2 separate regions of the Homo sapiens genome follow, and region 1 is linked to region 2. The links come from fine-mapping of genetic effects on gene expression. A gene starts in region 2. The other region holds a variant in brackets. All regions are shown on one strand. Distances are between the middles of the regions. Region 1 holds the start of MIR6884 (microRNA 6884). Region 2 holds the start of MED24 (mediator complex subunit 24).

The links.
Region 1: its variant is fine-mapped to the expression of MED24 in sigmoid colon (GTEx, PIP 0.97).

The regions. Positions count from the first base shown.
Region 1 is chr17:40,025,768-40,028,675 of GRCh38, forward strand. MED24 (mediator complex subunit 24) reads right to left here. Exons shown (of 26, transcript NM_014815.4): 15 at 2,142-2,179; 16 at 1,616-1,698; 17 at 1,089-1,267; 18 at 880-979; 19 at 389-564. It overlaps MIR6884 (microRNA 6884), which reads right to left and starts at 642; the gene lies at 565-642. SNORD124 (small nucleolar RNA, C/D box 124) reads right to left here and starts at 1,878; the gene lies at 1,775-1,878. RefSeq lists an enhancer at 880-1,790. The variant T/TG (reference allele first, on the strand shown) is at 1,485.
Region 2 is chr17:40,052,779-40,055,686 of GRCh38, forward strand. It overlaps MED24 (mediator complex subunit 24), which reads right to left and starts at 1,630. Exons shown (of 26, transcript NM_014815.4): 1 at 1,583-1,630; 2 at 691-857; 3 at 520-602. The coding sequence starts at 820. RefSeq lists an enhancer at 1,830-1,889.

The DNA of each region.
Region 1 (2,908 bases), 27 kb before region 2:
GAAGAGCCAGGGCAGGAAACTGTCCTAAGAGGTAACTGAGGGTGGGGCATGGCCTGTAAAATCTACAGACAGGTTCCTAGCTCCTAGACAGTCACACAGCTTTGTTCTTTTGGGAGCTAGTTGTCTAGAACTTGAGTCTCTGCGGGCAGACCCTGTTTAGGGTCTGCATTTCTGACAACACAGCAGGTGCTGGCATATAAACGCTTCTGCCACAGAGACACAGTACATGTTTGCTGAGTCAGATGAGTGAATGCATGAATAGGAAAGTGAGTGAGTGATCAAGTAGCGTGTTTGCGAAGGTCAGAAAAGAGAGGGGTGCTTGTTATTGGATGTGCTGACTTCTCACAACACACTTGAAGGGTCTGAGAAGGGAAGGCAGGTTACCGACCTCTCATTGTAGAACTGCAGGGTGTTCTCACTAAACAGTGGCCCTGCCAGCTGGCGGATCATCTGCAGCGACTTCTCACGCTCATCCAGCCCCAGCATCCGGACGTGGGCCACAAGCCAAGCCACAGCACACACCGCCAGACTGCATACCTTCCCTTTGATGTTATCAGTGATTTTCTAGGGGAGACGGAAAGGTGATGGGCTACCATCTATCTCCCTTTCTTGAGCCAACATCACCTTCTCAGCCTCTGCGGGCAGCTAAGTGCAGCGGGTGGAGTCCCGGGCCACATTCCACACCTCTCTCCACAAGTTTGATCTTCCCAGAGCTACCTGGGCCAGAGGGAGTAGCTAAGACAACGATTACACAAAATATCAATATCAAAACATGAGCTCCTGGATTAAAGGTCTTCTTGCCCTTACGAAATATAACAAGTCATCACTGGCTGGCTCTGTGTCTCAGGGGAGCAAACGCTGCTGGGAAGGCGGGGCTACCTGGATGGACTCGAAGGCCAGGACCCCATTCTCCCAGGCATTGAGGATTTCCAAGATGGCGGCTGAGATGCTGAGACAGGCCTCATGCCACTTCATCTGCCTGCGGGTGTGCAGAGAAGTCAGCACAGGGGAGCAAGGAACGGGCTCAGGGAGCGGGTCTTGACCCTGCCCCCACCGCCACCCTTGGAGTGGGCGCCCGGGCCACTGACACTAGCTTCATCTCCGAGGAGTTGTTGAGCAGGGCCACCAGGGACTCCACTTTGGTGGAGTCGGGGCGGAAGCAGGGGTGGTCAGGGTTCAGGATCTTGCCCTCCTCAGGCATGCAGGTCTGCATCCAGGTCTCGAAGAAGGGCACCTCAGCTCCTGTGCGCGACTCGGACAGAATCACCTGGGAAAGGGGAAGGGGGGCACCAGCCGAGTGGGGAGGGCGCGGCGCCTGCCAGCGCTGGACCTGGGGCTGCACTGTTTCCCGCCAGGCTGCTGCTCCAGCCCAGCCCAAAGACTGGGGACGAACTGGTCTAAGGGAGCCAGACGGGGGCAATGCTGCCACCTAGTGGTCAATGTGAACATAGGGCTGAAGGTGCCTCTACGGACTCCAGCCCGGG[T/TG]GGGCACCTGGTTTCTGAGGCCCACAGAACTAACTGGCTGAGAGGCTGCGGGGGCGCAGGCAGTGAGGTGGGGAGAGTTCCGGGTTACCTCCTTCCCTTGAGCCCCCGTCCCGGTCGCTCCCCTCTCTCACCTCTGAACCATAGGTCTGGGCCACATGGCACAGCATGAGGAAGGAGATGTCAAACAGCAGGGCCCGGACGGAGGCCGGTTTGGCTGTGGAAGGACGGGAAGGCTGAGCTCCCAGACGAGGGCAGGGGGGAGCCCGTGTCTGGGTTGACAGGGATCGGGATTTGCCTCTAGGAAGGTCAGGGACCAAGTGGCTCCTTCAAAGCTCTGAGGCTCAGAATCCTTTTCTTGAGTCTCAACTGGAACATCATCCCTTCCTTGAGACCAAAGACCCCCAGCACCCTCTCCTGGCATACCTAACCAAGTCGTAAAGGGATGAGGGGGGGAAGGAGACACAGGGATGGTCTGGGAAGAATCCTTTTCCAGCATTATCCACTTTCAAGCTCTGTGGAAGCTTCCATTGGTCATGGCTCTGAGGAGGGAGCACAGCCTCCCCCTGTTGAGCTGGGGAGCCCTCCTCCCTCCCACACTCTCCCGCCACACCCCTCCTCAGGGCCCACTGGGCCTGCGGATGCACAGGGCTGACTTACTGCTTTCTTCGCTGCCATAGGTTGTGAATTCATTCAAACTGAAAGGAATGGAGACAGGCTGCATTGACCAGGGCATGAGCTGAGCAGTAGCTGGGCGCTGGGGCTACACATGTTCAGAGAGCGATAGCTAGAGTCTGAGTTACTGGTTAAACTTAAAATGAGACACATTGCTATAGAAAAAAGGTTTTTGTGGTTTTTGTTTTTTGTTTTTTTTTTGTTTTTTTTGAGAAAGAGTCTCGCTCTGTCACCCAGGCTGGAGTGCAGTGGCACAATCTCAGCTCACTGCAACCTCCGCCTCTGTTCAAGCAATTCTTCTGCCTCAGTCTCCCAAGTAGCTGGGATTACAGGTGCCCGCCACCACACCCGGCTAATTTTTTGTATTTTTAGTAGAGACAGGGTTTCACCAAGTTGGCCAGGCCGGTCTTGAACTCCTGACCTCAGGTGATCCGCCCACCTTGGCCTCCCTAAGTGCTAGGATTACAGGCGTGAGCCACCGCACCCGGCCAGAAGGATTTTTATTGTTAGAAGATTTCCAAGGCCTAGAGAATGGCTCACTGAATGGAACCATGTTCTATATATGTCAAATTCCAGGGCAATCAAAAAAGGCAACAGAATTTGAGAGCCCCTTATTAATAACTGGGCATACTTGGAATTCCTCCATGCCCAATGTTCAACACCTCAACCCTTACCCTCATCTCTTTACCAAACATGTCCACTCCATCCTCAGCTGAAGAGAAAGGAACACTTAGGTCGTGAGAACAGGCCCT
Region 2 (2,908 bases):
AGTGAATGTAATATTCATCACAACAAATGAAGTATTATTTTTATGAGAACACTGAAACTCACTGAAATGATCTGTTCAAACAGATCAATCTAGAATCTTACTCTTTCATCTAGAAAGAGTAAGCTGACAATTGTACAACTGCACCCCAAATTGTGTTTGTTTGTTTCTTTCCTGAGACAGGGTCTCACTCTGTTGCTCTGGCTGGAGGGCAGTGGCAGGATCATGGCTCATTGCAGTCTCGACCTCCCAGGGCTCAGGTGATCCTCCCACCTCAGCCTTCCAAGTAGCTGGGACTACAGGGGCACCACCACGCAGGGGTAACTCTTTGTATTTTTGGGTAGAGACTGGGTTTTGCCATGTTACGCAGGCTGGTCTTGAACTCCTGGGCTCAAGCAATCCGCCTGCCTCAGCCTCCCACAATGCTGGGATTACAGCCATGAACCACCGGGGCCCAAATGCACTCCAAGTTTTTTACCCCCAGAACTCTCACTTCTTGGTGGGGGTTTGCGGGAAGCTTACCTGGGAACTAATGGCATACTTCAGGTAGGACAAGATGAGAGGATTGGGGGATGGTCCAATCATGGCCTGCTCTAGTAACGCATCTGCAAGAGGAATAGCAAAACACAACTGAGTGATTACAACTTCTCTGGGTTTATCCCTCCCATCTTTCTTTCCCAGTTCACTTGAGACCTGCCAGGTTGAGAATATCCCAGGTGGCTCCTTTAGGAAAGAATTTCTTCATGTTGATTGCCCATTGGTAGTCACTCCAGCGCTCCTTCCAGGCTTGCAAAATGGCTTGCTTCAGGTTGACCACCTTCATTATTTCACTCTGAGCAGGTGGCAGCGGTGGCGGCCAGCTTTGAGGTGAAAGAAATGGAGCTAAAGAAAAGGACATGAGGTTCTAAGGAGAACCGGGGAAGGCAGAATTAAATAGAAAGGAGAAGATGCGGGAAGATTTAAGCGAGACAGAGGAATTTGAAAGAAAAAGAGCTAAAGGGATAAAGTAAGATCCTGTCAGACTCTCTCCTCCTGAACCGCCCTTCCTTAAACTGGGGCACTAAGAAAGTATCGGCCGAGCGCAGTGGCTCGCACCTGTAATCCCAGCACTTCGGGAGGCAGAGGCGGGCGAATCACCGGAGGTCAGGAGTTCGAGACTAGCCTGACCAACATGGAGAAACCTCGTCTCCACTAAAAATACAAAATTAGCCGGGCTTGGTGGTGCATGCCTGTAATCCCAGCTACTCGGGAGGCTGAGGCAGTAGAATCGCTTGAACCCGGGAGGCGGAGGTTGTTGGGGTGAGCCGAGATCGCACCATTGCACTCCAGCCTGGGCAACAAGAGCAAAACTCCGTCTCTCAAATAAATGAATAAAGAAGTATCAAAGGGACTAATAGATTAAACAGGGCATCAAGGAGTTAAGGCAGTCCTGGTTGCCTAATTACGCCCTTAGCTCTAAAAGCGTCCCTTGGCCACCACCATTCCAAGTCCAGATTTGCTCCCTCATTTCCTCCACCTTCTCCAGCCCTGTAACTATACCTCCCAATTTCCTTTTCATCCACCACCTCCCCAAATTTAAGCCTACCGCACAATCCAGTTCTAGGTGGTAGGCATCGCCATTTTGGCACTTGTCAAGAAGCTCACTTTCTATTGGCTGGGAGTAACAAACGCCAACCAATAGAAATGCAGCAAGGAACGCCCCGCTGTCTTCTGGGAATGGTAGTTCCTTGGACTGAAACCGTATTTGTCTGCGCCGGCGAGGAAACTAAGGGACTCGTCTAGTCGGCCCGCATTGTTCTTCTCCTTTAAGGGAGGACATCCAGGAGCTGAGGCACTACAGAGACTCAGGGACTCGAGGGAGCTCGAAAGGCCGCTCACAACCCGGCGTCGCCCACGACGTCACTGTCGACCGGGCTTCTCCATCATATTCCGACACCCTTTCATTCGTTAGCCCCTAGTTAGTAGGTGCGGCAAGGGTGTGGCGTGGGGGCAAGGGTGTGGCGTTCAGCAATAAGGTCTTTCTCCTTTCCTGGGCTCTTTCTGTTCTCCTAAGCCCCTGGAGCTACCAGAGCTATTCTCATTTCCACAACTATATTCTAAAAGCGACACCGAGGTGCCTTAGTTGCACACATATCACCGTCCCCGAATCTTACAGTCCTATCAGAATCTCCAGGCCCTCCATACAGCTTGGATACAAGGGAAAGTAAAGAGGAAACTAAGGTGAAGGTGATCAAAATCAAAGGAATTCTGAGAAACTGTCACAACTAAGAGGGCTAAGGAGACCTGATGACTAAATGTAATGTGGTTTTCTGAATGCGATCATGGAAGAGAAAAAGAATACTGGGTAAAAACTAAGGAAATCTAAATAAAGGGTGGACTTTAATTAATAATAATGTATCAATATTAGTTCATTAGTTGTTACAAATGCATAATACTAATGCTAAGATGTTAATAAAAAGAGAAATTGGGTGCAGAATATGTGGGGACCCTCTATTACCTTCCATTTTTTTCCTGTAAATTAAAAACTTGTTTTTTTAAGTTTCTTGTTGTTGTTGTTGTTGTTGTTGTTTAAATCTTGCTTATCCCAAAGATCCATATATAAATTATGCCCAGGGCTTTGGCCATAGCCTTTCCTTCCCCCAGTGAGAAACCCGAAAGCAAATGTTACCCACCTCTGGAGGCTCCAATGTCTGAGCCTTCTTATGCATAGCCCTCATCCCTCCCCATGCTATGGACTGGTCATCCCTAACATTTACAACCAGGAATAAGAGTAAATTACTCGGGAGGCTGAGAAAGGAGGATCACTTGAGCTCGGGAGTTCAAATCCAGCCTGGGCAACATAATGAGACTCTCAGCTCTACCAAAATACATAAATAAATAAACATGGAGGCCTTTAGCCAGGGCCCAATAT